2 linked regions of the Homo sapiens genome follow. The protein of the gene in region 1 purifies or fractionates together with the protein of each later gene. This does not show direct contact. Each region holds a gene or a part of one and is shown in the gene's direction. Other genes may lie near its edges.

Evidence for each region. The genes of interacting proteins can lie anywhere in the genome.
Region 2: the proteins of ZNF185 (region 1) and CRY1 purify together in Homo sapiens (co-immunoprecipitation; one large-scale study listed by IntAct). This does not show direct contact.

Annotation. Positions count from the first base shown.
Region 1 is NC_000023.11:152,918,567-152,922,066, forward strand, and holds part of ZNF185 (zinc finger protein 185), read left to right. Parts: intron 1-416; coding exon 417-515; intron 516-1,761; coding exon 1,762-1,845; intron 1,846-2,140; coding exon 2,141-2,182; intron 2,183-3,500. UniProt on the Homo sapiens protein: May be involved in the regulation of cellular proliferation and/or differentiation.
Region 2 is NC_000012.12:107,003,050-107,006,549, reverse strand, and holds part of CRY1 (cryptochrome-1), read left to right. Parts: intron 1-1,301; coding exon 1,302-1,444; intron 1,445-3,500.

The DNA of each region.
Region 1 (3,500 bases):
GCATTGTGTGCCTAAATCTGAGCTGCTTCTTGGATAGAAACCTTCGGGTTTTCCCTTAGTGCTCCCCTTGGGGTCCCTTTCAAAGCCCCCCACCCCCCACTGCATGCTCAGGGAGGAGGGTTCTCTGGACAGAGGTGTGAATTGTGTCTCTAGTTCCCAGGGGACCACATCTTTCCGTTGTTTGTCCCTTGCCTCCATCATCCAGGGTTGGGGAGCTGCTGGGTAACCTTTCTGGGGAAGGGGAGAGGCTCGAACAGGGAGGGAGGGGAGAGCTGGTCTCAGGGAGGAACAAGTGGCATGACCTAAGGCCCAAAGGCAGAGATATTGACTTGCCTCGTCATTGTTGTTGAAAGCCAGGAAGCCAAGCTGCTGAGGGTGGCAGCCTATGACAGGAAAGCGCCTCTCCCCTCTCTTAGGGCACCCTACAATATCAGGCGCAGCTCTACATCAGGGGACACCGAGGAGGAGGAGGAGGAGGAGGTGGTGCCATTCTCCTCAGATGAACAGAAACGGAGGTAATGGAATGGTGCCTTTTGGGCATCCCGGGGGGCAGGGCAGGAGCCTGAGTCTTCGAAGACTGCTGGAATGAATTGTACTGGTTGGGGTGACAAAATGCACAACACGTAGGCCATCAGCGGTAGCCCACGGAGCATGAGAATAGGTGTCATTCTCTGAGTGCCAGAACCACCCACTCAGTGTTGGACCAGCTGAGGGGCCCTTGAGAACCTTCTGTGGGGTAGAACCTAGGTAATGTGGGTCCGGGGAAAAGCCTCCTCATGTGGAGGCTCTTCAGGGCTCTAAATCGGTTTGTTAGAAAGGGCCCTGAGACAGTTGAACAAAAATATTCAGGGAGAAGCCACCTGCACAGTGCCCTCTATCTGCATGATCTGCATGCCTTGGGGGTTCTGAATGCCCCGGACCCCAAACTGAGCTCCAGGCATGCACAGCAGTGGGAGTGTGCCCCATGCTGCTGAAATTCTACCCTAGTCTCTGCGCCAAGCTGCCCTCGTCCACACAGGCCAGCAAAGTTCCATGGACCCTTGCCCCTCCTCAGTCCTCTGTCCATGGGGACTGACCACATACCACCCAGTGCTGGTGAACTATGACAGGAAGGGTTTGTTAAGCACCTTTTGTATGCCTTTGGCTTGGGGCCTGTACAGCAGTTGGGCCCTGAGGAAATAAAGCCCTCCCCTCCCTGGGCTCAGCCAGCCACCAGGTCCATATCTGCTGACCCATCTGTGGCGCAGGAATCACAGCAAAGCCCCATTGCCAAAGGCCCTGGCAGATTGGCTATCCTCAGGGAACAGTTCACAGTGGCAGGGGCCCCCAGGCCTGGGTGGAGCAAGGAAAAGAGCCAGAAGCTAGGAGCTGCCTAGCATTGAATGCCAGCTCTGCCACCTGCTAGGTGAGTGCTCTTGGGCAAATAATGAAAGCTTCTTGGACTCAGTTTCCTCATCTGTAAATCACAGAGGATACTAGCGTCTACTTTCCTGGATTGAGAAGAGCAATAAGCCAATGCGAGGATGTTGGCATCTGGCGCAGAGCCGGGCACATGCCACATGCTCCATAAACATGGGCTGCCCTTCCTTCAGGTTCTACATTTCCTTTGAATAGTCCTTGGAGCAGGTGCAAATCTGGTTTCTCTCACCCCTTGCCTCCCTGGGGTGGCCCTAAGTCACCCCGAGTCCATCCCAGGCTAGGCTGGCAGAGCATGTCCAGCTTGGCACCCATCAGATGCTCCCCCATCCCGTGTCACCCCAGGTCAGAGGCTGCAAGCGGTGTTCTGAGGAGGACAGCTCCCCGGGAGCACTCCTACGTCCTGTCAGCGGCCAAGAAGAGCACTGGGTGAGTTGCCACCAACTGGCTCCAGGCTCTAGGACAGCTCTCCTCTCCTCAGAGCTCCAGCCTTCTCTGGCTGATGAAAGGGTGGGTGGAGAGATCACCCCCAAGGGCCTTCCTAGCTGAGCCTTCTCAGATTCTCAGATGTACTTTCTAGAAAATGGAGAGGTCTGGCGGCTACCACCAGGGACAGTGAAGTGCCGGGAATGGAGAGGGCCCAGGACCCTCTGAGGTAGAGCGGTCTTGATGTCACCTGCCCACGGGCTCTGCCCAAAGCATTGCCTTTCTGCTTCCTTTCCAGCAGTCCTACCCAGGAGACACAGGCACCGTTTATCGCGAAGAGGTAAGTGTCATCAAGGGACACCTTGGAGGCCTGTTACTGGCCACAGGAAGGCCTTCCGTCAGCAGGGGTGTAGTGTGGGAGCTGTGGAGAGGGGATGTGGATGTGGGGGACTACTGTCCCTGAGCAGGGGGAGTTGTGAGGGGCTGGGGGCTTCTGTCTGGAGGCCTGGCAAGCACCTGGGTGGCTGTGGTAGCATATGTGGTCAAGCTCTTCCATTTGCCAATGGCTAATGGGGCTGGGCCCCTGACCCAACGTGGAGCATTTCCAAGGCCCTCTGGGAGTTGTTCCCCTGCCCCTGTTGCTTGCCTGATGCCTTGCCTTCTGCTCTCATCCAGGATCAAAACCTGGGCCATCAGGAGAACTTCCCCTGGGAGGTGACTGTGACATTGGAGATGGGCCCTAAAGGGTGAACAGGGCTTAACAGGGAATGATCAGAACGTCGGGATACTCCAGCTGAATGAGGGAGGGGTGTCACCATTAGTTGAGACAGGGCACCTTCTGGAGGAGGAAAATATTCGGGGGAAAGCAAGAAAGAAACTTCTGGAAACTTGAATTTGAGGGACTTCCAGTTGAGTGGACAGGGAAGGCCTCTCTCTGTGCTGAGGTGGCTAGCTGGGGACTGCAAACCCAAGAGAAGACAGCATGCCAACTGCCCCAGGCAGAGGGCCCCAGTGCACAGGCCCGGGGTGGGACTAGCTTGCTGTGTTGGAAGACCAGGAAGTTGGCAGGAATACAGAGAGCAGGGATGGTGGCAGCACAAAGGAAGTGACAGAGAACGGGGGGCGGTGGGGGGGTCTTCCTGGCTGCATTTGGTTCCTGTGGTTTCTGTAACGCAGTACCAAAAACTGAGTGGCTTAAAACATCAGAAAGGGATTCTCTCCCGGTTCTGGAGACCAGAAGTCTAGATCAAGGTGTTAGCAGGGTGGGTTCCTTCTGGAGGCTTTGAGGGAGAAACCATCCCAGGCCACTCTCCTGGCTTCTGCTGGTGGTTGGTGATCCTTGGTGTTCCTCGGCTTGTACCTGCATCACTCCAGTCTGTGCGTCTGTCTTCACATGGCCTTCTCTTCTCTGTGTGTCTGTGTCCAGATTTCCCTCTTCTTACAAGGACAGCGGTCATTGGATTTAGGACCCATCCTACTCCAGTATGACCTCATCTTACCTGATTACATCTGCAAAGACCCTATTTCCAAATAAGGTTACAGTCACAGGTTCCAGGGGACATGAATTTTGGGGGGACACTATTCAACCCAGTATGCTGTCCTTATCCTGAGCTGGAGTCACTGAACCCCCAGCCTGGGCCACCTCTTGGCCGTGATCC
Region 2 (3,500 bases), on another chromosome or scaffold:
TACATAATTTGACAGCCTATCAGAATTTTGAATGTGCTTATCTTTGATCCATCAGTTGTTTTTCAAGGGATTATTTCTAGGAAAAAATTGGATAAATACCCTATAATTTGTAAGATGTGTGCATAAAGGTAAAGATATATACTGTAAAGTTTATAATAGCAATTTTTTTTTTTTGAGATGGAGCCTCGCTCCTGTCGCTCAGTCTGGAGTGCAGTGGCACACTGCAACCTCCACCTCCCGGGTTCAAGTGATTCTACTTCCTCAGCCTCCCGAGTAGCTGGAATTACAAGCATGTGCCACCATACCCAGCTAATGATTTTATTTTTAGTAGAGACGGGGTTTCACCATGCTGGCCAGGCTGGTCTTGAACTCCTGACCTCAGGTGATCCACCCACCCCAGCCTCCCAGAGTGCTAGGATTACAGGCATGAGCCACCGCACGCCGCCTAGAATAGCAATTTTTTTAAACCCACCATTGGAATAGCCCTTGTCTAATCTGGAGGTGTTTGGTGAATTATAGTATGTTACCATATAGGCAGTTAAATAATGGTAGAATTTTTTCTTTATGAGATAAATCAGAATAGACTTAGAATAAAAAAAAAACTTTCTCCTTAAGAAAAATCAATTCCTTTAAGTCACAGTTTCCTCATTTAAAATCAGTATAAGGAGATGTACAGAACTTATTAACATAGCTCCTGATAATAAGTAACTGCTATTATTATTACCATCTCCAAATTTTTCAGTTAACGTTTTTTAGTAATCAGAAAGAAAATATTTACATACACACACACACACGACCTCAGCCAGGCAGCTTATACCATATCAATATCAAAGGTTAGTTAAAGACCAGTTCTTAGACTCAACAGACATAAATTCAGGTGGTCTGGCTTTCTGTGAACTCTGGCAGGTCCCTAAGTTTTAAAAATAAACTTATCTCCAAAATGGAAATACTAACCAAAGTGCCAAACTCTGAGTGTTGTTTTGAGGCTCAAATGAAATAATGTAAGTATGAGTAATTTGAAAAAGTAAAGTGCTCTACAAACACATTTAGTATAAGAGCTGGTTTTAAGCATATTGCTTTGCTAGATTGTTGCCTAGCATAATGCCTAGAATCTAATGGGTTATGCATTCATTACTTATGTATTTTTTAATTGATAAATTGTTTACTTTTTCCTGCATATTCAAAGTTTGATTTATGTATAATCCTTTGATATGTAGATTTTCAGCTTTTTCACTTTTCGTTATAATAGAAAAAATAACTATTACAATTGGTGTACATTGTTCCCCTTTCTCTTACTTTAGGAATGGAACATTACTAAACTTTCAATTGAGTATGATTCTGAGCCCTTTGGAAAGGAACGAGACGCAGCTATTAAGAAACTGGCAACTGAAGCTGGAGTAGAAGTCATTGTAAGAATTTCACATACATTATATGACCTAGACAAGTGAGTCCTTTTTTTTTTTTTACTGTGGGAAAATGCGTATAACATAATATTTACCATCTTAACCATTTTTAAGTATATAGTTCGGTGGTATTAACTACATAGATAAGTTTTTAACTGAGGTTTATAAAGTAGAAATAACATGTACTTCACAGAGTTATGGGAGAATTAAGTGAACATATGTCAAATCCTTAGCATTTTATTTAGCTGCTATTGACCCAATGACAGGTATCAGCATTTCAGTTTCAAAACTATTATGGATTAAGACTATTACAGAATTTTCCTTGACTACTCTTAACTCAGCCTCCTGTGGTCTTGCCTTTCTGGGCTCTTAGCATTATCAATTTTATAGTTATATATAGTTATAAATTGCCTTGACATATTTTGTATGCTTGTTTAATGTTATCTTATTTCATGTATATCTATTATGTCTGTCTGGATTTTAAATCCAGATGCAAATTGGATGTAATATAACATTGCATAGCTGTAGTCCTCTGAACAATGGCATAATAGAATATTTCCCAAAGTGTATTTCTTCCAGCACCAGTCCTTGGTGATGCTTTGTCCCACAGAAATTCTGTGGTCAAACTTAAATTTAGGGAGTGTTATATGCTATGAGTCTTAGAGGTCTGTAAAACTTAACTTTTTAAAACTTTTGGCATACCATTGTCCTTTTAAGTACTGAAATCTTATAATTTATTTACCTTTTAAATCATTTTACTTTTTTAGTAATTTATGTATTTTATCAAGTTAGTAAAACAAATTCTGTAACATGACAAACTAGTTGATTTGATTTCACATTTTAAATGTATCAAAAAATCATGATTTGATTCAGACAAAGGTCTTGATACTAAGCTAGAATTCATATATCTTTTAATAATAATCTTGCCTTCGAGCTCACCAATTTGCTTAACTTTAAGGAGCTCATAGCAAGGAGGGGGCAACACAGGATAAAAGCAGTTGCTTCTAAGTGGGAGACTCAGTGTTATGCATAAAATTGTTTAGGCTAGGCGCGATGGCTCACACCTGTAATCCCAGCACTTTGGGAGGCCGAGGCAGATGGATCACGAGGTCAGGAGTTCAAGACCAGCCTGGCCAAAATGGTGAAACCCTCATCTCTACTAAAAATACAAAAATTAGCCAGGCATAGTGGCGGGTGCCTGTAATCCAGCTACTTGGGAGGCTGAGGGAGGAGAATCACTTGAACCCGGGAGGCAGACGTTGCAGTGAGCCAAGATAGCACCACTGCATTCCAGCCTGGGCAATAGAGCAAGACTCTGTCTCAAAAAAAAAAAAAAAAATCAAGTGTTTATTGGATTGAATGTGAATATTTACTATATGTAATCTATCATATTAAAATGTAACATATAGAAAATGTTTTGTCCTAAGATTCTCATTTTGCTACTGTTGTGTAATTAACAATGTCCTCAGTAGTATTATTGTAGCATCATTACATTCAGCAAAATTCATTGCAACCCTATGAATAAATTCAAAATACACCAAAACAAAATTTACTTAAACAGGATATCTTTTATGGTGATTGCTTTCTGTATTACTTTCTGTATGTATCTGTAGTTGATACATCACTACGTATTGTATAATGAAAAATACACTAAAATACACTAAGAAAACCTTGATTTGCCGTTTATCAGTTATATGACCTTGACTAGTTTACTTAACTCTCCTGGTAGGCCTGTTTTCACATCTATAAAATGATGGAGTTGGATTTCACCTGTCATTTTTTATTAAGGCCAAATGCTAAGCAAATGGCCATAGTGAAAAAGAGTAGTTATTCCAAAAGAGTGTCTAAACTTAATCTTTAACTACCATTGGCAAAGCTAGTTATTTTTTTAATTAATAATTGATTGAGTTAATTAATGATCAGAAGTAAAAAGATACTTAAATTTAAATAACTTGAAATTTGGGGGCTTATGTGTTCTAAGTATGTGACATAGATACATATGCTGACATCTCTCATGCCTTCATTAGCACAATAGAAAATAGGAAGTAATTGTCACCACAGTAATATAGAATCAAAATTTATAAAATTTGCTGAAGG